3 separate regions of the Homo sapiens genome follow, and regions 2 and 3 are each linked to region 1. Evidence: fine-mapped expression QTL. A gene starts in region 1. Each other region holds a variant in brackets. All regions are shown on one strand. Distances are between the middles of the regions. Region 1 holds the start of MICAL2 (microtubule associated monooxygenase, calponin and LIM domain containing 2). Region 2 overlaps MICAL2 (microtubule associated monooxygenase, calponin and LIM domain containing 2). Region 3 overlaps LINC02547 (long intergenic non-protein coding RNA 2547).

The links. PIP is the estimated chance that this variant, and not a neighbour inherited with it, causes the effect.
Region 2: its variant is fine-mapped to the expression of MICAL2 in whole blood (TOPMed, PIP 0.97).
Region 3: its variant is fine-mapped to the expression of MICAL2 in unexposed skin (GTEx, PIP above 0.99).

What each region holds. Positions count from the first base shown.
Region 1 is chr11:12,105,650-12,113,917 of GRCh38, reverse strand. It overlaps MICAL2 (microtubule associated monooxygenase, calponin and LIM domain containing 2), which reads right to left and starts at 3,328. Exons shown (of 28, transcript NM_001282663.2): 1 at 3,192-3,328. RefSeq lists an enhancer at 2,719-3,422 and a silencer at 2,965-3,634.
Region 2 is chr11:12,257,954-12,265,953 of GRCh38, reverse strand. It overlaps MICAL2 (microtubule associated monooxygenase, calponin and LIM domain containing 2), which reads right to left. Exons shown (of 28, transcript NM_001282663.2): 25 at 7,398-7,486; 26 at 6,057-6,159; 27 at 3,417-3,474; 28 at 2,169-2,394. The coding sequence ends at 3,434. Among named protein-coding and RNA genes, the nearest start is that of MIR6124, 98 kb to the right of the region's middle. The variant C/T (reference allele first, on the strand shown) is at 3,003.
Region 3 is chr11:12,044,277-12,052,544 of GRCh38, reverse strand. The region is part of intron 1 of LINC02547 (long intergenic non-protein coding RNA 2547); the gene reads right to left. Among named protein-coding and RNA genes, the nearest start is that of LINC02547, 18 kb to the right of the region's middle. The variant C/T (reference allele first, on the strand shown) is at 3,427.

The DNA of each region.
Region 1 (8,268 bases):
TTTCATAGTGAGGTGAGAAGACATGTTCATAAATAATTACAATATAGGGTGAGAAAGGGTAAGTACTGTAGCCCCCCCTCATCTCAGGGAGATACATCCCAAGACCCCCAGTAAATGCCTGAAACCTTGGATAGTACCAAACCCTATATATGCTGTGTTTTTTTCTATACATACAGGAGCGATTAAGTTTTCTTTACAAATGAGGTACCTTAAGAGATTACAACATTAATGATAAAATAGAACAATTATAACAATATACTATAATAAAAGCGATGTAAATGTGGTCTCCGTCTCTCTCAAAATACTATAATATTTTCAGACCATGGCTGACTGTAACCGAAACCTCGAAAGGTGAAACCGCGGATAAGGGAGATGACTGCGCAGCAGAGGAGCTGTGCCTGCCAAGCCTCCAGAGTGCAGAGACAGCCACAGGCTTTTCCTGCTTCCCATAGCATTTAATTCTCCACACTCAAACTGCACTCATACATGCTGTGTGATGCAGGCAAGTTGTAACCTTTTTTGTTGTTGTTGTTACTAAAGACAGCAGTCTTGCTACGTTGCCCAAGGTGGCCTTGAACTCCTGGCCTCACATGATCCTCCTACCTCAGCCTCCAAAGTGCTGGTTTTACAGGCATGAGCCACCACACCCGGCCAAGTTGTAACCTTTCTGGGTCTCAGCTTCCTCACCTGTAAAATGCAGTTAACCCCACTTCTTTAGAGGCAGAATGAAACAATAGAATGATGTAAAGAATGAAACATCTCAGCATGATGAACAGTATTCTCTTCTCTGACTCTTTAAAGAATAGAGACTGTTAGCCCTCAGAGGACATCTAGGATCAGCAATGTTTAACCAAGTTATTCTTTTACCCTTACCACGTCCCGTCCTGCCAGAGCCAAGGCTTCCACCAAGAAGACAAGACCTCTATACTTCAGCAGTGGGAAGCAAAGGGGGCAGGCCCATGGCTGGGAGGCAAACCCAGGTGTGGGTGGAGAGAACAGAAACATACCCCAATTATAGGCAGAGAAGGAATCTGGGATCATATGGCTGCTCCTTGCAGCCTGGGAATGGGCCTCCAATGGCCACAGCCACAACCAGGCATAGTTCTTAAAAGCTGATTTATACTAAAGTATAATGGATTGGTATCAGTTTTCATGATTTTCATGACATCATGAAAATAAGTCATGAAAATCATGACTTATCATGATTTTCTTTTGAAAGAGGGGATGAGCAGAAAGCCAGAGCCCTAGGCCTAAAGGAAGAAGGGGCTGGAGATAAAAGTGATGTCATGTTTTTATAGAGGTATGTTCAAACTGGATTTCAATTACCCCACAACCATAACACTACACCCCAACACCTGCCCCCCCACCCCCAAAAGCCCCACGAAACTAGAATCAGTCCTAAGGTAGAGGTTATTTCAGCTAACACAGTCCTCCTAGACTATACCAGAAGCCAGCTTCTCAGAGGTGAGGCCAGGTCAATGGTAGAAGCAGGCTTCCTTCCAAAATAGCACCCAATCCCTCCCCATAGCAATCTGGCCAACACTATCCACTACTCTTGACTAGGGGGAGGATAAGGGGTTTGCAGGTTGAACAACTTGGCTAACCTGGGTCACTTCAACTGTTTTGCCAAAGAAGCATCCCCTGAAATCCTGGTGGAGAGCATCTTTTCAGAGGCTGGAAGGCTCTAGTCAGCACGCTGTGGGGCCATGGTCCTGCACACAGCACACCACTTCCCACAGCCATGAAACAAGAGCACTGGACTCACACTGACAGGGCCAGGACCTGGCTCAGACACTTGTTGTGTGACCTTGGGCACCTACCATACCTGAGCCTCTTTCCCCATCTCTAAAATGGGGAGGGCAAAACTCTCAGCGTTTTTGGAATAACCATGAAATTGGCTGCAAAAGTGCCACAAGACAGGACCTGTTGCCCAGTAGGCACTTAATAAGTCCGTCTTCTCTCTGCATGAAGAAAGTGAGTTCTTACGGTATTAGAGTCTCCAGGGCATTGCACAGGACTACCCTGGAGACCGGAGGCCCACTTGTTGGGTCGACTGCCACTGGGGAGGGGGAGCAGGACAGAGTAAGTGCAGGTGTCAGGGAACCTGGCACAAACACTGGAGGGCCAATTCGCCTCTGGCTTTTCTCCCGTGGGACCAGCCCACAAGGGGCCTGGCTGGTGACTTCATCCTTCACCAAAATCATTGTAGACTGTAGTTAACAGGCGACAATCACAGCAAGAGAGCCGGCACACTGCTGTAGGCCTGGCGGGGCCCTACAGGCTTCCAAATAAAAGCTCTTTCCGCTTTAAGAACCCAGGCCTCAGAATAAACAATGTGGAAGGAGGCACACTACTCTGGTTTCCACATCCCCTCATCCCCATCCAGTAAAGGCCGTTCCCAGCTCTGCCAGTGAGGCTGGCGGTGAATACAATTTACCCCACCTGCCCCGTCTGGCCCGGCAGCGGCTTAGACGCTGTGGGCAAGATCCCACCTCTCCCCGGGGCCAGCCAGGCACCTACAGGGTGGGTGCCGCGGACACCCTGCGGGGGTGCTCCTGGGCCTGGAGCGAGAGCGGGCTACTGGGGATGCGGGAGACGCGATGCAGAGCGGACAGTGCCGCGGCCCCTCGGACCACTGCCACGACCCCATCCCGACTGGGCTCCAGCCCGCGGCCAGCCAGGCCACTGACATTTGGCCCAACTTAACTTCCTGTTACTAAAGAGGGAGGGGACAGGGGAGGGGGAAAAGGGCGCCCAGTGAAGAGCTGGAACGGGGCGTGCAAGGCTCGGAGCCCCAATCCTGGGAAGTTTGGGGATGGTCTTCTGCCAGGTGACAGGCAGCACTGCAGGCGCGTCACTCCCACCCCGTTTTGGCGCTTGCGATTTTCTAGGCTTGGAACTGCAGGGTTTGGGTGTTGCGGAGCGGAGTAAGAGGTAGTTCGGCGTGCCGGTGGGAGGCTTTTATTGCGTTCTAATTGGTTCAGAGGCCGGCCAGGGCCGCCCCGGGCTTCGTCGCAGCGCCACCTGCTCACTGTGCGCCCCGCCGGGTGGGTTTGAGGCGGGGGATGCTGCGGCCGCACCTGACCCTCCCGGGCGTTGGACACGGCGCAGAGTCCAGCCGAGGCTGGCACGGTCCCCACCCGCGCCCGCCCGCCCTCCCCACCCTGAGGCCAGCGCCGCCCCCGCCTTACCGAAAGTCGCGCGGGCTGCCCGGCCCCGGGTCAGGCCTGCCTCGGCCCTGGCCGCGGGCGCAGCGATCGGGCCCCGCGGGCCACTGACAGAGCTGGGAGCGAGCGAGGCGGCCCGGCGCAGGCTTAGCCAGCCGAGCGCCTGCGGTTCTGCGCCGCGCGGTGGACCGGGCTGGGGAACGCCCCCGACAGCGGCGCGGCCAATGACAGGACAGCACGGAGCCCGCCCCGCCCCCGTGGGGCCGGCTGTCACCGCCGCTGCCGCCGGCGCACGTGGGCTGTAGCCCGGCCCAGAACGCAGGGAGTGGCCGGGCGCTCCCACCCTGACCCGCACAGGGCGGAGACCAGGGGAGGGCTGCTGGGAGTGGGGCGTGGTGGCGCTGCGAGATGAAACCCCCGGTGTTGGTAAGCGGGTATCAAGGGAGCGGCGAGGGCCTGGGCCTCACGCTTCTTGGTCTAGGCGGCTGGAAAGCAAGACACGGCATCCCCTTTTGGACATGGGGGAGCAGCATGGCACTTCTAGTACCGACTGTGTACGTCCTGTGGACCTCCCTCTTTGCTCGGCTCCTTGACCACCCTGAGCTTCCGCAAACCTCCTTGCTAGCTAATAGGATCTTCCCCTCACCTGGCCTTGCTTGGCTAAAGCTAGTGGGAAGGGGGCGGTGGTGCAGACTACCTGTGTTACCTTGGTCAGATCACCTAAACACCCTCTACCTTTGGCTGTCATATCCCTATCTTAATCTCTGCTCTGCCCACCTTCCCGGGTTACCCTTACCCCCCACAGCTCCAGAGAGCAACATTCACAGACAACACAGTGTGAATGGAGTGGGGCCTAGTGAGCAATCAGAAGCACTCTGTAGACTATAACTACTGTAAAACACCTTGTGTTTAAACGGCTCTTGTAGCAGTTATCATGAAATGGGGATCTCCATGGGCAGGAACCATGTCTGACTCACCTCTGGAACCCAGGGCCCATCACAGGGCTTGGCCCGGTGTAAGCATCAATAAGTGTTCTTGGAACTGAGCTACCTAGGCAGAGGAAAACAGGCAGGCTTGAGCAGTGAGAAACAGTATTGTGGCTCCAGGCTGCTGGAATTTCCCCAGCACAAGACCACCTCCAGGAGACACCATGTTCCCTTGCCAGACAAGTGCAAACAGAACAGTTTGCCTCCCCAAACCTGCAGATTATTATTATTTTTTCTCTACTCTACTTCTTGCCATGTGATCCTACTCTCAGCCCTTTGGTGTTTACCAGGTATTGTCCTACCTGGCAGCTCTCTTAGCTCTCTCTTCAGAATTCAATCAACTTCCTGTAGATGAACTTTCCAGCAAAAGCTGTTCCTACCCAGTTTGCAAGGCCCAGTCAGCTTGTACTCTCAGAGGGCCAGCACTCCACTCTGATGGAAATCTGCCTGTGATGCCAGCCTGGGGAGTGCCCTTCACACGTGATCTCATCTAAGCCTGGCTTGACAGGTATGTATTGTATCATCATCCCATTTCACAGATGTGGAAACTGAGACCAGTGAGGTAAAGCAACTGGTCAACATCACATGGTTAGTAAGTATCAGAGTCCGGATTTGAGCCAGATCTGGTTCCAGAATCTACATGCCTAAACACTATGTGCTGGGGCCTCTACAGCACTGCCCATGCCTCTAGGGTACTTGACAGGTCAAGTCTAACCCTGAAAGAGCTGCTCTAGGCCTGACCCACTCCCAGTCCATCCAAACAGTCTGTCAAGCTCAGGCCAGGGCACTGTAAGGGAGAGGAGACTCCACTGGCCTGGCCCTACCTTATTTAGAAGAGTGATACAGGAAACCCAAGGCAGTGAGGAGCTTCAGGAAGCAGTGTTACATCTGTCCCCACCTTAACTACACTGGACATAAAGCCTCTTGCTATTGGCCTGGACCTGAGACACCCATGTGGTGGATAGAGATGGAGACAGAGTCATTCATTCATTTAACAAACCCTACTCCGAACCAAATGTGGTTCCTGCACTCATGTAACTTATAATGCAACAGATGAATAATCAGAAGTACACAATGCTGTCCAGACATGGTGGCTCAGGCCTGTAATCCCAGCACTTGGGAGGCTGAGGTGGGCAGATCACCTGAGGTCAGGAGTTCAAGACCAGCCTGGCCAATATGGTGAAACCCCGTTTCTACTAAAAAACACAAAAAATCATCTGGGCATCATGGCACATGCCTATAATCCCAGCTACTCAGGGGGCTGAGGCAGGAGAATTGCTCGTACAGCGAGACTCCATCTCAAAAAAAAAAAAAAAAGGAAGAAGAGGAAGAAGAAGAAGAAGACCACAGTGCTTTGGGAGCTGTATTCTTTATTACTCTTTTTTTTTTTTTTACAGTTTTATCACCTTACCAATAGCACAACATTCTCCCTTCAGATTAAAACAAGCTTAATGCTATTTCAGGAGCACTGTGGGCCAACCAAGTTTAACAAAGATAGCATTGCTCAGCACAGAAGTTCAAGCAACTTAAAAATTAGAACTTACCAATGCATTCCCAGAACCTCTGCCTCCTCTCCCCTACCCTACTCCCAATCTTTTTAACTCAGGGGGCTCAGATAAGAAAGACTCTTGCTAGGTGGGTGCATCTGAGGGCTGAGAGGTGAGCTTTTCCTTGGACGCAGGGCAACCTGGGAACTGAGAAGGGTTAACTGCATGGAGGGAGATAAACCTGGGGACTTCTTGAGCCAGTGGCCAGAGCCACTCACCACCTCACACAAGCCACCCTTGCTGACCATCTTCCTGGAGAGAGAAGAGGAATGGGTTAAGGATGTCACAACTCACCTTCCTCTGGACTAAGCAGTCACCATGGGATGTCCTGCTGGGCTGTGACTATGTCTAGGAGTTATACAGCTCAGCTCTTCAAATGAAAGATCTAAAGTTAGGGCAAACTTTAGAGGAATATTTATCGAATCCCTTACCTAGCAGATGAAAGAAAAGAAGAGGCCAGGCATGGTGGCTCATGCCTGTAATCCCAGCACTTTGGAAAGCTGAGGTGGGTGGATCACTTGAGGTCAGGAGTTCAAGACCAGCATGGCCAACATGGTGAAACTCCGTCTCTACCAAAAATACAAAAATTAGCTGGGTGTGGTGGCACACGCCTGTAATCCCAGTTACTTGGGAGGCTGAGGCCAGAGAATTCTTGAACCCAGGAGGTGGAGGTTACAGTGAACCGAGATCACACCACTGCACTCCAACCTGGGCGACAGAGCAAGACTCTGTCTCAAAAATAGAAAAAAGAAAGAGAGAGAGAGAAAAAAGAAGAAGGAAGGGAGGGAGGGAGGGAGAGAAGGAGGGAAGGAGGGAGGGTAGAAAGAATAAGGAAGAAAGGAAGATAAAGAAAAGAAAAAGAGGCCGGGTACAGTGGCTCATGCCTATAATCCCAACAGTTTGGGAGGCCGAAGCAGGTGGATCACCTGAGGCTAGGAGTTTGAGACCAGCCTGGCCAACATGGTGAAACCCCATCTCTACTAAAAATACAAAAATTAGCTGGGCATTGTGGTGTGCATCTGTAATCCCAGCTACTCAGGAGGCTGAGGCAGGAGAATCACTTGAATCCAGGAGGTGGAAGTTGCAGTGAGCCGAGATCGCACCACTGCACTCCAGCCTGTGCGACAAGAGCAAAACTCCATCTCAACAACAACAACAAAAAAAAAAAAAAAAAAAGAAAGAAAAGAAAAGGAAAGAAATGGAGGCCCAGAGATAGAAGGATGCTTCTGATGGTCACAGAGTGAGTGAATAAGTGTGTTCCAGGCATGCAATGTCCCTTTCTCACTCTTAGCATGACAGGCAAACTAACTCAATATCTTTATGAAGCAGGCTCAATAGTCTATATTTAATAGCCACCTCTTCCCCAGGCCACTTTTCCAGGATGCTGCTTGTGGAGGTTGTCTGGGAGATGCAGATGGCCACTTAGCACGAGAGGGAGGAAGAGAAGGAAGGCCCAGATTCATCCCTAAATATAGCTTCATCTCAGACGGAAGCAATGGCCTCCACAGCACTATGCATGCCTCCCCCTGAAAGAACCCAGCTGGTGCTCGCGGGCATCATCGTTTATCCACCTGATTGTGTTCAGAGGACTGTGGGGGTGGCAGTTCTGGCTTCCTTTTATTTCCAGCCTAGCAATATGCTTGAAGAGAGGTCAGAGTTGAACTAAGTGGACTCCTGATGGAGATTTTCTGTAATGAAGCCAGGGTGCCCCTCAAGATATTTGAATGGCAGAGAAGACAGTTGCACCGGGCTCTGGATCTCTTCCTGAAGGCCATAGATTCCAGAGAAGGGCAAAACAGTGAGTGTGGTTCTCACTGGCTTCCTCCCCAAGCTGCTATCAAAGTGCTTTGGTCTTTCGGAAGGAAGAGGAAGGCTGGTATCTAGACAGAGTCCAGTGACCTGGTTAAATGATGAGAAAGGGCTGATTGGCCCCGGGCACCTTGGGAGCTGTCCTTGGAGGACTTTCTAAGCCAGGAAGTGGAAACATTTGTATCTCCCACAGACAGACTCAGCAGTATGTGAGAAGCAAGATCCCTGGGGCCTTGTTCAAGCTCTTCATCATCTTTATAGTCCTCAGAACAAACCGCTTGTTCACGGATAAAACATCTAAAAGTTTTCAAGGTCACTAAAAACTCATCAGGCCTACCTCGCTTTAAGTGGCTTTTCCAGAGGTGGTTTAGAGAAAAATGGCACCTGTCTGGGACCTGCTGAAGTCAGTAATGCCCTCGGAGGCACCCCAGCACTTTGGTGAATGTGTGCACGTTGCCAGCAATGGTGAGAAAGTCAGTGCTGGAGAGCAAAGAGCTGTGGCTGCAGGCAGGAGGTGACATCCCAGCCAGATGTAGCAACCAGAGCAAACAGCGATGGAGTGGGTGTGCAGAAGAGAGGGGAAGAAACATAGGGTCATGTAAGTAGTCTAGCTTTAGCCCCAGATAGACTGGGGATTCACAGACAATTGTGAATTCCAGGGGCATAACATAATTCTGACCTCTAGAGATCAACTGATGCCACAAAACCCAGAGCACCCTCATGGCAGGCTGGGCCACACCTGCAGCCTGGGCAGATTCC
Region 2 (8,000 bases), 150 kb before region 1:
AGTAGAGACAGGGTTTTGTCGTGTTGGTCAGGCTGGTCACGAACTCCTGACCTCAAGTGATCTGCCCGCCTCAGCCTCCCAAAGTGCTGGGATTACAGGTGTGAGCTACCGCACCTGGCCCATGTGCACCATAATTAATTTACTTCCTTTAAAAACCAAGTAGGAATACTTTTGTAAATGCTTGCTTTTTCTTTTTAGTGTTTACTTTTAAAATTTGCTTAAGGGTAAATTGCCTGTTCATAGCCTTTGCCTATTTATCATTGACTCTTTAATCAACAAATATTAACTGATCATCTACACTATGAGAGGTGCCCAGGAACATCTGTTTTAAATGAACCTTGAAAATACCATGCAATGAACTTCTTTGTTATTACATTTAGTTCATATTTTTCCCTAGTCTAATGGTCTATTTAATATTTTATTACTCTACATTAAGTTTTAAAAATGTATATAATCAGATTTGTGTCATGTTTTCCCTGTGTGGTGTTCTTCCTATTAGAGGATTTATGCTTAGAAGGTTATCACCCCATATCTAATCAATACTTAATTCCATTTAATATTTAATTATATGGTTTTCCTTTTAAAATTCTAAGTCTTTAATCCAATATCTCTGAATTAAACACTAGTCTACCAAAACTATGTATGTAGAATGCAATATTCAAAAAAAGCAAACCAAAACAAAAACAAAATGTTCACATAAGTATGGGACAGCTGACTTTCACAAAGTTGATTAAACTTCCCTACAAGGATGCCTCAGAGACTTGACATGCTAATGAATCTTGCTAGTCTCCAGGACGGGGGAGGACTGGCAAGATCAGTACAAAATATTCCTCAAATGTTGTGATCATGGACTCCTTTGTTGGTGAAGCACCACTTGGGGTGTCACGCTTTGACAATAAAGTGACGATTTTTGTCTGCTTTACTCCCTGCTGTATTCCTAGTACATAGTAGATGCTCAGGAAATATCACAGAGTTGAGCAAACAAATGAGCACATGCACAGTTAAATATAACAGATCTCATCTAGTACAGCAATACTGAGCCACATCTCTAAGGTGCAGGGAGGTGTGGGGACTTCGCATGGTTCCCTGCTGTACCTAGGGCTTAGAATAAGGCCTAGGACAAACATTTGCTGAATAAATGAATGCATAAAGGAATGAGTCACTTGCACAGCCCAGCACCTGACTTACAGTCCCTAACATCCCTCCTTAAATGGAAGTGGGAATATATCACCCAGGTAAGAGTACAGAACCCTTGGTCATGACCTGAGGCAGCTCTGAAGGTAGATCCAGGCATCAGAGACCAGAGCCTCAGGAACACCCATTTGGAGGTGCCAGGGACCTCATGAGGTTCACAGGTGACTTTTCATACCACTGTCAGAAGCCCAGCTACGCCCAGCTACGCCCAGCCAGGAAATGGCAGGCATCCCACCCAGGGGAGGCTGAGGACCAGATGACTTTGGCACTGCCCAGGATAGCCAAGTGAGGCTCCAAATCTTTCCCTTAAACACAGCCTGGAGTTGCCTGGGGCCTGCCATGAATACTATACTTCGGGTGGTGCTAGGGCAGGGCCTCACACCATAGATACTGAATACCCTGAGCCTTTGGGACAGGAGAGGTCTCTTAGGATGGCAGTGGCTCTCCATCTGATGAGCACACTGCCAACTTCATTGCCATCCTAATATTGATGCCCAGTCCTTCCTACTTACCTTCCACTTGCCACTCAGCTGTGCACCAGCGTGAAGTGTTCCAGACCAACCTTTGCTGAATAGGAACCTAAATTAGTGTAAGGTTCATGGGGAAAGCTCTCCTGTAGAGCCACGCTTGGGTGTGCGGGGGAAACGGGTAAAGGTAGCCATCAATACAGTCTGCTTCTAATCGCTGAGGGGACACTGACCCTCACCCACTATGCCCAGCATCTAGAACAGCAAAGTACAATGAGTGTTCAAGAAAGAGATCCCAAAGCCTAGCCCAGGAGCATTGGTGACAGTTTCCAAATATTACCCAGGGGTAATATTTCCTTTCAGAGTGCCCAGCGCAGCCCCAGAGAGTCCTGTGTTACCTCAAGTGCAAGTCCCGCCAGCAGTTTAGGGAAAATGAACCCCCTACACCAATCCCTGTGTGTGAGGTTTTAGAAGCTTCCACGGCAAAGAAGAGAGGAAACAATGAGCTTTATAAAGAACAATATTTATTTCCATTTACAGCATCAAATACCATAAATAAAGCTAAACATTGTTTGTTTTGCTGTGTGCAAAATACAGGGTTCCGTGTGGCACTGTAAATGATTACCAAAGGTCACAGACATGCGTTGTGATGAGATGGGGAGGCTAGCTAAAGAGGAGGCTGAGAGGGGAGGAGGGCACTCTTTGGTTGACATTCTATAAAGGGAGGGAGACTCTGTAAGAGAAGATAAGACAAGAGCAACGACTTTGTACTGGCCAGGATCTGCACAAATACAGTGAGCGTGCAGCATGCAGGGCCAGGCAGGCAGGCCCGGGGGTCAGGGTGGTCTGGGCCACATGCAGGACAGACGCCCACCGCAGCCTGAGACCGCGAGTGTTGCCTAGGACAGCTCCACGGTGCTTGGTGTGTTGTTTCTCGTTAAGAGTGTGTTGGTGATTATCCTGCTGCCCCAGGTACAAGAGTCAGCAGAAATGTGTGCTTTAAGCAGAGTCACAGGGGCCTGGGGCTGAACTGAGTCATTTCTCAAAGATATCCCTGCCTGGGATGATGATGGCTCTAATTGAAGCTCTGGCATCATCTGGGGCTTTATGAGCCAAGGGAGATAAGAAGAGCCACAGCAAAACCCTTGGGTCTACAGTGCAGGCTGCAACCAAGGCAGCATTTGCTAGAATATTTGTGATTATGTGTTCAACCTACAGAGCATGTGTCAAGCTTGGGATGAGGCCTGAGAGTAATTAAGTTTTTTAAATCCCTCCAAATAATCACCTATGGTTTTGATAAATGACATTAACAATCTTTACATTAGAGCCAATTTAAGAAGG[C/T]GCTGGTATGTATGAGCTTTTTGAGGCTGCTCAAAAAGTGTTCTTTTCAAAGGTGACAGAGGCCCCCTCATGGTATTGTTTCATGATCAAGGTCGACCCTCCCAAGAAAGTAGGTAGCTTCGCAGACGCAACTGGAGAAGCATGCACGCAGGCAGACCCAAGGGAGAGAGGAGAGGCGGGGCATGCACTTGGGGTAGACCAGGCTGCCAGCTCCATGGGAAATGAACACAGGCATGGGTCTCAAGCTGAACACCCCCCGCCATGCTGTTAGCCAACCATGCCACCAAATGAGTCCATCAGTATGCAAGACACTCACAGTTAGTGCAACCAGTACTGCTGGCGGAGAGGACGGGGTGCGGAAAGCGGGTTGGGGGTTAGTACCACTCTTTGAAAATTGGCAAGAAAACCAGTCACCTTAGAGCAGAAGTGTGTCAGCCAAGAAGTGGGTGTAGCACTGGAAGGCTGAAATGAACTGATGGCCATGGCGTAAGATTGGAAAGAGAGAGAAAGATAGAAAAGAGAGCTTAGTGTGGGGAAAAAAGGAAATGATTAACATCACGAGAAGGCACCGGAGTTGAAAATAAGGCCACGATTGAAAGAGGGAAACTTCCTCTGAAAGAGTCGCTGTTTGCTTAGGAGAGATGAACCTTTCTGGTTGTGACCAGCTACTTGTTTACGAGAGTGGATGCACACAGTTTGCATCTTGCTCCCTGATATCCTCTCTGCCCCCATTTTACTCTAGCGTCTCCCATTCATTCTTGAATATGTTGCGGAGGCCTAGAGGCATTCATCCTCGGGGGTCCACCCCTGGGTGTCGGTGCTGCCCACCAGAAAGGTTCAACATCTCAGAGCGTACAAACATCTCAGATTTCTGACAGGCACGCCCTGTCTCGCCACAGTAATTCAAACCAGTCTCCTTATGGCTGTACACGACAGTCAGAGATTCCGACTCGGGCTTCATGGAACACTCCACAAAGCATCTCAGCCTATCCTGAGCTGAAGATAATCACAATAACATGGCCGTTCACATCATGACCTCAAAAATTTACTTTCTATACTCAAACAAAAGGAATCAAGGGTTCCTCCCACCATGCTGAACATTAAAATCCCAGCAAAAATTGGAGAAAACACAATGCAAGTCATCGGACTGAGAACAGTGCCAACAAGGACAGAGGCGCCAGTTCCCACAGAGTTGGCCACGGCCATGCCTCTGTTTTTCCCAAGGATTTCAGGGAAGTGTTTGTAGAAATGCACCTCCTTCTTCCCGCCCCATAGAAACTGTCATCTCAAAGCTCTCAAAGGTTCTGACTCCTCACCCACACCCAGGCACACCTCTTAGTTAATCCAGAGGCATCTCTAGTGATAACTCCACAGAGCTATCTTGGGCCCAGCAACTCCAGATACACTGCGCACCGTAGATGGCCTTTCTCTGGCGGCCCCTTGATTGTTCAGCCAGACCCTGCAGCTGTGTATGTCTAGGCAGCGTGGAGTAGGGAGAGCTGAGGACTCTTCTAGATACCCAGAGTAAGAACACAGGTGGACCTGCATGCTCATTTTTACCCTTACTCATGCATATGTCCTTTGGATCAGTCCATAAATAGCTTCCACTCCCAGCCTTCCCTGCCAGTCAAGATATGGTAGAGCTTCCCCTGGAGGTCAGACCCATTCCTTTCCCAGGGCAGTGTGAAATTGGTTTCTGTTTTGACCACATATGTGTGGCAGCGGAGCAGCTAAGCAGTCAGGATGTCCACAGGCAATGCTCACTGGGCAGGCCACGCTTCCCAGCAATAGCCTGATGTGCTAACAAACCCCCTCAGTCCCAAAGGACACCACATAAGTGGACAGAGTCTTCCACTCCACTTGGCCTGACCAATATGGACCCTGCACAGCCTTGGCTCAGCCTGCAGCCCGGGCTGGGGGATCCGCTGGGAGCCACAGGGGCTAAAATGCCATCAGTTGAAAGAGCTCATCTTTGGCACTGCATCAGCTCCATGGTCAAATGCCAATGGGCTTTCCCTGCAGTGCCCATTAGTGGGAAGGGAAAATGCATGTTTGTAGAATCTGTTGAAACCCCACGGTTCTTTGTCATTTGGCTGTGAGTTGGTATGGGGGGGAAAGCCTTTAAGCTACTGTTTAACATCAAAACAAGGGAGCAAAACAGTCCTCCTCCCAGGGGGACAGATAACAGCCAACCACACACTGCTCCGTGCTTCTGTAAGTTGAATTCTATTCTGCCCTTCTACTCTCTTCTTCTAAAATAATTATGCTTTCGTGTTGTAAAAAGTATCCTGCTGCTGACAAGTGGCATCTGGGTACCTAAGTCAAAAGGCACTGGTCAGGAGATGGCACACTCATTTTCATGCGTGTAAAATCTTAAATCATCCACTTTGCAGGCAGTGGCTTTGATAACTCACTGCAGTGTTCAAGGGGTTTATAAAACTGGTTATAAGCTTCAAACCCATGTTTAGAAAAATTGACACTCATAGAAAAAAATGCTTTCTCTGGGCTAATTAAAATTAAAAAAATTGAAATGTAAACCCAGAAGTATGGCTCACAAAGCTATAGAAAAGATCCTTCATATCATCCCTGGCCCTAGCACCGTGAGTAGATGTTCACCCTGATAAGGCCAGGCGGAGGTGGCCCATGTGAAATTCTTTGGCTTTGAGCTAATTGCTTAGAGAATGCTAGGCTTCCTGGCCAGAGCCTGAGCAAACTGCAAACGCACTGCCATCTGAAGCCTCCCTGGAAATGTGAAGGCACTTTGGGGCAGCCAGCCATGTCAGCGGAGCTTGACTGGGAAGCACCTGAGCACCCAGTTGCAGATGCTCTCGAGGGAGCCCTCAGATTCCCTGTACATGGCTGCCAGGACCTCAGAGAACGCCCAGAGGAGTGGCAGCCCCAGGCTCAGGAGCTCGTACATGTAGCAGTAGTTGTAAGCATTGTCCCTGATATGGAGGCCAGCAGCTTGCAGGAGTCCCTGCATCCAGTTACACAGGTCCCTCGGCAGCCTGAGGGGCCAGCCCAGCACCTTCCTAAAGAAGGAGGTGGAGATACCTGGGGGGCTGCCTTCCAGGGTGCCAATGGCGGCCACTGCGCAAGAACTTTCGGTGGGAGTGTCTCTCCGAGGGGCTTCCTGCTCTTGCCATGTTGCCTCCTCCTGAGAAAGAGATGGAAATGAGGGCATTTGTCTGTAAGTCTTCCAGAGGACTACTTCAACAAAGCCAACAGCCAATACAAACTGAACTCGCCAGACCCTGCAACCAGCCCCCACAATAATCTCAGCCCCCCGACTCATGCTGAAGCCGGTGCTGAACACGGGCACTTTTCTAGGGGCCAACTGACCATAGGAGTCACGAGCCTTCAAAAATATGCATGCCTTTTGATCGGCAATCTCACTCCTAATGATATACATCAAGTAAATAATTTGAAATATGGATAACAACATGCATACTAGCATACACTGTAAAAACATTTGTAAGATAAAAAATTCCAACGACGTAAAGATCCAGTAATACAGAAGTGGTGAAGTAAATTATTGACCATTTATAGACTAGAATCTTCCAAAGGCATTAAAAATTATGCTCCAACATAAAAAAATTTAATGTCATGGGAAACTATTCTTGATATACAGTTAGTGAAGAAAAGGAAGAATATAAAACTCTAGGCATAGGATTCCACTTTGGTTAAAATACATTCACATAGAAAAAAAGCCTGGAAAGGGATGTTACAAAATGTCAACTGCGGTTTTCTCAGGGTAGAGTGGTTACAGGTGATTTAACTTTGTTTCTTTATATTCTTTCCTTCCCATGTTTTTACACTGAACCTATATATTTGGCTAATTAGAAAAAAGTTTTAAGTTATGGGTTGTTGCTAGTGGTAGATGATTAATCAAGCCCGAGAGAAGATATTTGCTAAGAGATGCCAGAAGAGATGCTTCCACAAACCATCTATGAATTCAGTGGGCTGGTCACTTTGTTGACTTCGAGAGCCTGGGAGAGGACTTGGAAAATGTAGAAGGGTCGGTCCTATACCAGGCATTCTTGCAAACAGCACCTTGTGGCCAGGTGGGTTCCAGGTACAGAGGGCCATGTGGCTTTTGTGTGGCTAAGCATATCACCCCATCCCTGCCACATGGGCAAGCTCTTCCAGGCTTCTTATGAGAAGCCAGCATGGCTACTGTCCTGGGAGCTCATCTGGAATGGGACACACCCCAGAGGCTGTGGAACAGACTGAAGCAAAAGAACCCTCCACACCAGGAAGCAGAGGCTTTCTTCTTTATCTGTGAGTCATCTCAATCCCTCTAGGGCCAGCAAAGCTGGCCTAACTTTGAGGATCACTGGAAACCCTTATCAAGGGGCCTTCCCCGTTTCACCAGCATGTTTGAGACAAACATACCTCTCTTTGTTGCTTCAACTCTGCCCGTCTCTTCCGTTGTTTGCTATTGGTTTTACAGTGAATGAAGTGAGGCTTGCAGTAAAATTTGCCTGTAAAAAGAGGCACACACATACAGAAAAATTTTTCTCCTGTAAACTAGAGCTAAGTAGACAAAAGCCAAGTGCCCACCACTGTCCAAGTCAGAAAATAGTAACGATGGAAATAGCCCAGGGTGGCTCAAACTTGGGAAACGGCTTCTGTCACCTTCCTTAAAGAAGTGGCACTGAGATAAGGTAGGAGGGCCCTTTGCTGCCTCAGAGACAAGCTCCAGCAATGGGGGGCTCCCGGGGATGTGGCTAAGACCTTCAAACCATGCCGGCTCCCGTAGGGTGGCATGCCCGCACCCGGAGAGGGCATGGGAGCTCTGAGCCCCTTCTCCCATACCACACCCCATGCCTCTTTTCCATCTGGCTGCTCCTCTGCATCCTTTATAATAAATAGGACAACATTTAAAAAAAATCCCCAAATCAAACTGAGGCCAAGTTTCTTCATAAGACCGGTTGCCAGGCAGCTAAATGGACAGCTTCGAGTATGAACACCCTCAGTCTTTCTTTGTGGAATACC
Region 3 (8,268 bases), 61 kb after region 1:
TGCTCAAATCAAGGGCAGTGCTGTGTTCCTTTCTGGAGCCTACAGAGGGGACTCCAGTTCCTTGCTTTCTCCAGCTTCTACAGGCCGCTTGCTTTCCTTGGGTCGTGGCCTCTTCCTCCATCTTGGAAGAAGCCAGGAATCACATCACTTAGAACCCCGTGTCCATCCTCGCACCTCCTTCTCTGACTCTCCTGCCTCCCTCTTCTAAGAACCCTTGTGATTACGTTAGGCCCACCTGGATAATCCAAGGCACCCTCCCTCTCTCCCAGTCAGCTGATGAGCACCTTAATTCCACCTGCAACCTTAAGTCTCTCTTGCCACGTAACATCACATAGTCAGGATTGCAGGGATTAGGGCATGGACGTCTTTGGGGGCAGGGAGGATCATTATACCTACCACAGGGCTAGTGTCTCTTGTTCCCTGCTATAGCCCCAGTGACTGGAACAGTGCCTGGTTCATAGTGGGCCCTCAAGAAAGACGTGTTGAATAAATTCATGAATAAATACATGAATAACCATTAGGAATACTATTTAAGGCTGGGTACAGTGACTCACTCTTATAATCTCAGACCTTCGGGAAACCACGGTGGGAGGACTGTTTGAACCCAGGAGTTCGAGGCCAGCCTAGGCAACATAATGAGACTCCCAGTCTCTACAAAAAATAAAAAATAAAAAATTAGCCGGGTGTGGTGGGGTGCACCTCTAGTCCCAGCTATCTGGGAGGCTGAGGTAGAAGGATCGCTTGAGCCTGGGAGGTAGAGGCTGTAGTGAGCTATGATCACACCATTGCACGGGGTGAGACCCTGTCACACACAAAAAGAGTAAATTTAATATTATAGCAAACAGCTATCACGCTTACTAAGTGCCAGGCACTGTTCAAAGTGCTTTACAAATATTTACTCATTTAATCCCCAACAGTTCTATGACGTACATTTTGTTATTATCTGCATTCTACAGATGAGGAAATTAAGGCACCAAGGAGGAGCTCGCCCAAGGCGCCACAGCTAGTGAGTGGTGAAGCTGGGATTTGCTCTCACGTTTACCGAGCCTACCTATTATGCATCCGGCCCTGGCTGAGCATGTTACATTTCTGATCTCATTTCATCCTCAGAGAGGCCATAAGGGATGTGGGTGGAATAGGAACAGAATTAACAGGCACAGAATTAAGTCACTGGAGCAGCTGAGGAACTCTGAGAGATTCTGTGGCTCAGCTGGGGCAATGAATTGTGTATTGCTTTTTGAGCCTCCTTTGCTAATTAGACCAGGGCCCACCCCCGCAAGCAGACCACAGGTGTCTGGGTTCCCACCATGATGTGGGGCTCCTGCCTCAGCCCTTGCTCCCAGCTTCTGCCCCTAACCGTTGCAACTGGTGCCCAGGCCGCTGCAGATGGCAGCAGGCCATGACCTTCACCTGAAGCTGGACCTGGCAGGTCTGCCTCCAGGAAACCTCTTCCCCAAGGGACAGGAACTGGCTTCAAACCTCACCCAGAGCTCAAGTTGCTTTGCCCTTTTCACTGATGACAACCGTGGGGACCCCCATAGCTGGGCCCTATTCATATTTTGCACATCCTGGAGCTGTTTGCTCTCTACATGCTGGCCTCGGCCACCAGCCCTGTGACAAGCTGCCCCTCTGTGATAAGCTCCCCACCCAGAAGCATGCCCCTAAGACCACAAGCACCAAAACCTGCAGGAAGCCCCTAAACATGGCCCCCAGTTCCCTCCAGCTCTGCAGGGAGAGTGCTGCTCAGGCAGGGAGGGGGAACTGCGCTCTCTCACTTGCATCTTAACCTTTGCAATCAAAGCCAAGAGGAGGGAAACTCTTGTGCCTGCCAGCACAGTGGGGCATCGCATTTTCTGTTCCTGCCAGCACATTTTTCTAGGTCAATGTCAGATCAGGGAAATCCAATACTGCATGTCCCAACGTTTTATTTGAAAACAGAGAAGTTGCTTTCCAAAATAAATAGCGTTTACAAGTAAAGCCTGGAGAAGCCTCTGTCAGAAATGGACTCTGGGCCCAGGCAGGATAGACGTTTCCTAGTGGCTTTGATTGATGTAAACCCAATGTCAGCCCCAGCTCCAGGCCTAAAAGGAGAGGCTGGGCTGAGGAAGAACACGTGTATATACACATACGTATTGATGTGTGCCCGTACATATGCATTTGCATGTATCCTTAAGGGTCTCTGGGTATGATTAGCATGAAGAGTAAGTTGGGGGGCTTATATGTGTGTCCTTATATGTGTTTATGTGTACAGGCATGTGAATGTGACTGTGTGTGCCTGTGTATGTGTGTGATGTGACACCCAGCCCTGTTTCTCAGACACCCAGTCCTCTTTCTAGACACCCCCTTCTTCTCCTCCTTGTACCTGTTCTTTTTCTTTTTTCTTTTTTTTTTTTTTTGACACAGAGTCTCGCACTGTCACCCAGGCTGGAGTGCAGTGACGCGATCTTGGCTCACTGCAACCTCCGCCTCCCAGGTTCAAGTGATTCTCCTCCCTCAGCCTCCCAAGTAGCTGGGATTACAGGCCCAGCTAATTTTTTGTATTTTTAGTACAGACAGGGTTTCACTGTGTTGGCCAGGCTGGTCTTGAACTCCTGACATCGTGATCTGCCCGCCTTGGCCTCTCAAAGTGCTGGGATTATAGGCGCGAGCCACCGCACCCGGCCCCTGTTCTTTTTCTTAACTGATTAAGGGGCTGGGGCTCAGATCTTGACACACTGTGACAGGCATTTCCTCTGCTCTGTTTCTTCTTGGTGCCTACCCACTGCTCCTTCCCAATTTGATGTTGACTTGTTGTGTAGACCAATGGAGTCCAGTTTTTGGTTACTGTGTTAGGACCCAGCAATTTGAGCCCAGGCTATGTTAACAGCGCTCTGTAAATGGTACCATGCACTGCCCCGGAAGGCCGCTGGTGTCACTTCTCGCTGACGTCACCCTGACTGCAGGATCTCCCTCACAGACCTCCGACTTCTGCTGTCAGTGCAATCCTCCCCAGGCCTTGCCAGTTTCCATGCTCAAGGCCCCGCCTGCCTGATGACCACCTGTCTCATTAAACTTAAGCAACTCAGCCTGGCTTCCAAGATCTGAGTATCTTCTTAGCAAATTCTCTTCTCAGGAAGTGTGTCCCCTTCCTGAGCACCTCGGCCAAGCTGCCCCATACTGTGTTAGCTCTGGCCCCTCCCTTACCCACCTCTGAGCATTTCTTTGCTCACGCTGTTCCTCTGCCCTCACACCATTCCCTGCTGCCACTTCTCTCTCATTGGCTCTGCCGGTCCAAACTCTACGCTGTTTCAAGACCAGTTCTAATCTCACCCACTTTCTCTACGAGGACTTAGAAGAGCCTCCCACCCCACACTACTTTCCCATCAGACTCTGGCTCACGGGATGACACACTGCCCTGTGTGTTGCCTAAGAATTGTTTTCAGGTTG[C/T]TTCATGGGCCTTATCTTGCCTTCTGACCTAGATTGCAATCTCCTTCTAGGCAAGAATCAAGCCCGGTGCAAGAATCAAGCCCGGTGCTGCCTTTGAACGAGATGTGGAACCCGACACAGGTCTGGACACAGTATAGCCAGGGGATGAGGGCTTGTGGGTGAGTGCACGCAGAAAGGCACACTCGGCTGGGGCGGTAAGGCCGCAAAACTGTGTCCTAGGCACTGCGTTTTGTGATTTATCTGTCTTAGCTCATCTAATAATAACTGTGGCGGCAGGGTGATATTATCCCCAGTTTAGAGATGAGAAAACAGAGATTGAAAGAGATTAAGTGACTTCTCTGAAGCCACAAAAGTAGTCCAGTTGTCTCTTGCTAACTGTGGGGGTTTGGTTGCCTGATCCCCTTGAATACCAAAGTCTGCGGATGCTCAAGTCCCGTGTCAGCCCTGCAGAGCCCTTGCATAGAGGACACTTTGCTTGTAACCAGCAAAATCAGGGGTTAATCCTAGGTGGGTCTGACTGCCTTTCTCATAACCTTGTAACAACCATATCCATGGGAGGCAGCATGCTAACAGTGAACTCTCTGAAATTCTAAAGCACACCCTACCCACAAGAGATCAGAGCAAGTTCTAGGGTGGCACTGTCCAACAGAACTTTCAATGATGGAAATGTTTATTTCTGTGCTGACATGAGAGCCACTGGCCACATGTGGCCATCGAGTACTTGAAATGTGGCTAATGAAGTAAAGAACTGGATTTTAAATTTTATTTTATCTTAATTTGTTTATTTATTTGAGACAGGGTCTTGCTCTGTCACCCAGGCTGGAGTGCAGTGGCGTGATCTTGGCTCATCGTAGCCTCAACTTCCTGGGCTCAGGTGATTCTCCCACCTCAGCCTCCCAAGTAGCTAGGACTATAGGTATGCACCACCATGCCCGGCTAAGTATTTTGGTAGAGACAGGTTTCAACAAGTTGCCCAGCCTGGTCTCAGACTCCTGGGGTCAAGAGATCTGCCCACCTCAGCCTCCCAAAGTGCTGGGATTATAGGTATGAGCTACCACCCCCCAGCCTGCTTATTTAATCTTAATTAAAACGTAAGTACTGTGGTCACATGTAGCTAGTGGCTTCCATATTGGATAGTGCTTCCCAACCACGTCCATGTCAAGTCAACATAGAAAATACTAATTACGCAATAATGAGACTGTTTGCTGCCAGAGGCAACTGGCTCAAGGGGTCCTGCCTTCCTGACCCCACCTAGCCTCCCTCAACAAATCTGTAGGCCACTTTAGGCACACTAGCTCTTCACAATGGTCAAGCTTCCTGCCAGCTCCCAGCCTCTGGGCCTGGAACACCAAAGTCATTGTGATCGTAAGAAATGCCAGCATAGGAGATGTGCAGGACCTTGTCAGTTCTTGCATGGTGTCCTTTCCTCCATTCCACACACAGTGCCTGGCCCTGGGCAGGGGCTGGGGTAAAAAGAACTCAGAGCCAGCCCTCACTAAGCACTCCCACGAGGCCATCTGATTCATATGCCCCAAACTGTTCTTTTTTGGCAGCACTTTGGCGCCCCCTCCTGGGCATCCTGCAGAGTTCAGGTGCGCATAAATTTGCCAGGAGGGGACAAGGACTTGGCCCTGGGACTGACCGCAGGGCTGTCAAAGACTTCCAGCCCCCCTGGCCAGCCAAGTGAGGGAATGCCTGCCCTTTTTCCAGGCCCAACTGGGGCAGCTCTTTTTCCTGCAGGGAAAAGGCACTTTACTGGCAGCCCTGGGGAAGAGGCAGGGGAGGCAGCTGAGTCTGGAAACGGGAGCATTCCAGAGCCCAGGCCTCTAGGCCCCTGTGCACTCTTCACACTGTGCCAACCCTGGATTTTCAGAGAGAAACCAGAGAGGATGGCTTGGCAGAGGCCCTTTTGGAGGTAACTGGGAAGCAGGAGAGGATGTGAAGTCAAGGCTGGTCTCTGAAGTGGAGGAGTTGGCCACAGGGAGAGAGGAGATAGGAAAGGACTTTGCAGTGGAGGGGGCAGCCAGGGAAAGCCCTGGAGGAGAAGGGGAGGGTGATCACCAGGGCATTAAAGCGGTCAGCGTGGCTGGAGTGGAGAGGTTGAGTGGAGATGAGGGAGGTGGTGAGGCTGCTGAGGTGAGGAGGCTGAGGTAGGAGGATCGAATGAGCCCCAGAGATCAAGGCTGCAGTGAACCGAGATCATGCCACTACACTCCCACCTGGGCACTGGAACAAGACCCTGTCTAAAAGAAAATGTGAAAACCATTCTTAGCTCTTAGGGCATACAGACACAGGTGGCAGGCAGAGTTTGGCTTGAGAGCTATAGTTCACTCACTCTCATTCTATCAGAAGGTGCCTGGATGGTGCATGGACAGGCCAACCCCTCTCCCACCCTCCAGCCTTTCCCCATCGCTTCACTTTCAAGTCTCATGCAGCCAGCCAGCCAGGTTTAAACACCACCTCCTCCAAGAGGACTTTTCTTACCTTCCCAGTCCAAGTTAGCCTCCCCCACTGTATTACTCCATTTTCACACTGCTGTAAAGAACTGCCTGAGACGGGGTAATTTATAAAGAAAAGAGGTTTAACTGACTCACAGTTCCACAGGCTTAACAGGAAGCATGACTGGGAAGCCTCATGACACTAACAATCATGGCGGAAGGCGAAGAGGAAGCAAGGACCTTCTTCACATGGTGGCAGGACAGAGAGCAAGGGAATCTACCACACGCTTTTAAACCATTAGATCTCATGAGAACTCACTATCACTAGAATGGCAAGGGGGAAAACAGCCCCCATGATCCAATCACCTCCTACCAAGTCCCTTCCTCCACACGTGGGGATTACAATTCTAGATGAGATTTGGGTGGGGACAGAGAGCCCAACCATATCACCCATCAACTTTGTGCCCCTTATAAAGTTACTGACCAGTAACTTACTGACCTCTGGGTGTGTATATGTGTGTGTGTATATATGTTTGTGTGTGTGTGTGCATGTGTGTGTATGTGCATGTGTGTGTTTGTATGTGTGTGGATATGTGTGTGTGTGTGTATTTGTGTATGTGTGTGTATTGTGTATATGTGTGTGAGCGCCTTTCCTTGCACCAGCCCTGTGCTGTGCCGTGCAGTAGCCACTAGCCACATGTGGCTATTTAGGGCTTGAAATGTGGTGAGTCCAAATTGAGATGTGCTGTGGGTGTAAAATACACACAGAATTTCAAGCAGCATAGAAAACAAGAATATAAAATATTTCATTAATTTTCCAGCTCTTAGGGAAGTTGATGAATTTTAATTACTGAATTTTATTTTAATTACATTTTAAAATGACAAGATATTGGATATATCTTATTAAATGTATTATTATTAAATTTATTTTTATGGTGTTTCTTTTTACCTTTTTTTTTTTTTTTTTTTTTGAGACAGGGTCTCACTCTGTCCCCTAGGCTGGAGTGCAGTGGCATAATCATGGCTCACTGCAGTCTTGAACTCCTGGGCTCCAGCAATCCTCCACCTCAGCCTCCTGAGTAGCTGGGACTACAGGGCACACCACCATGCCTGGCTAATTTTTATATTTTTTTGTGGAGACAGGGTCTTGTTAAGTTGCCTAGGCTAGTCTTGGACTCCTGACTCCAAATAATCTTCCCACTTCAGCCTCCCAAAGTGCTGGGATTACAGGCATGAGCCACCACACCTGTCCTTCTTATTTTTTATTTTTTTGAGACAGGGTCTCACTCCGTCACCCAGGTTGGAGTGCAGTTGTGTGATCACAGCTCACTGCAGCCTCATCTTCCTGGGCTCAAGTGATCACTACCTTAGCTTCCTGAGTAGCTGAACCTATAGGAGCGTGCCACCACACCTGGCTGATTGTTTTTTATCTTTTGTAACAACGGAATCTCCATATGTTACCTAAGCTAGTCTCCAACTCCCAGACCGAAGCGATCCTCCCATCTCAGCCTCCCAAAGTCCTGGGATTACAGGTGTGCACCATCACGCCCAGCCAGCCTGTGAGTTCTGACAGCAGCTGTGCTGGGTTCATTGTTGTCACTCCAATGTCTAGTGCACAGAGTAGGAGAGGGAGGGGACAGGCACAGGGATGTCTGAGGGCTTCCCACGCACCAGATGCTGTGTTAAGCCTCATCCATCTCGTTTTGTCCTCCCAGGAACCCTGTGCCAGGGATGGTGGCGTGGCAGCAAGGCGGAGAGTAGGAGGGCTCATTTAGGCCCCAGGCTACGGTCAGGGGTGAGGGGACAGGTAGAGTCCTCTCTGCTTTGTAGGCCTCCTGGGTTTCTAGACAAGAGGACACCACCCTCCTGCCACCACTTTGCATACTTCCTGGGTCACCGTCTTCCCAACTGGGGCTCAGCCATGGCCATTGTGAAATTTGTTCTGTCTCCTCTCAGACTCTGCCTCCCACTCCCATATCCAGACACGTTCCTGCTAGTGACAGCCACATGACCCTCCCAATAACCACACGCCCAGCCTGGCAGCCTTCCTGGGCCTCAGGAGTGTGGTAACTTTGGAGAAGGGCTTCTGACTCAGGCAGCTGAGCTTGCTGCCAGGTGGGGACTGGCTCTGGTCTCAGTGTATCTCTGGGCCCCTTCCCAATCCCAAAATGAAAGTCCCTCTTCAGGAGTGTAACCATCCAGGAACCAGCCCTCAGCTCAGCACTGGGTAGTGTCTGCTCATAAAAATGGCCACAAGGTGGCACTGTTCCCACAGCCATTCCCTTCCCCCACGGCAAGACCACGGGTCACACCTGCATCCAACAAAAATATTACAGCTTTTGGAAGAGGTTTTCCCTGGACTGGTTGGTGAATTTCATTCTCAGTCTTCAGCTGCCAAAGGTTG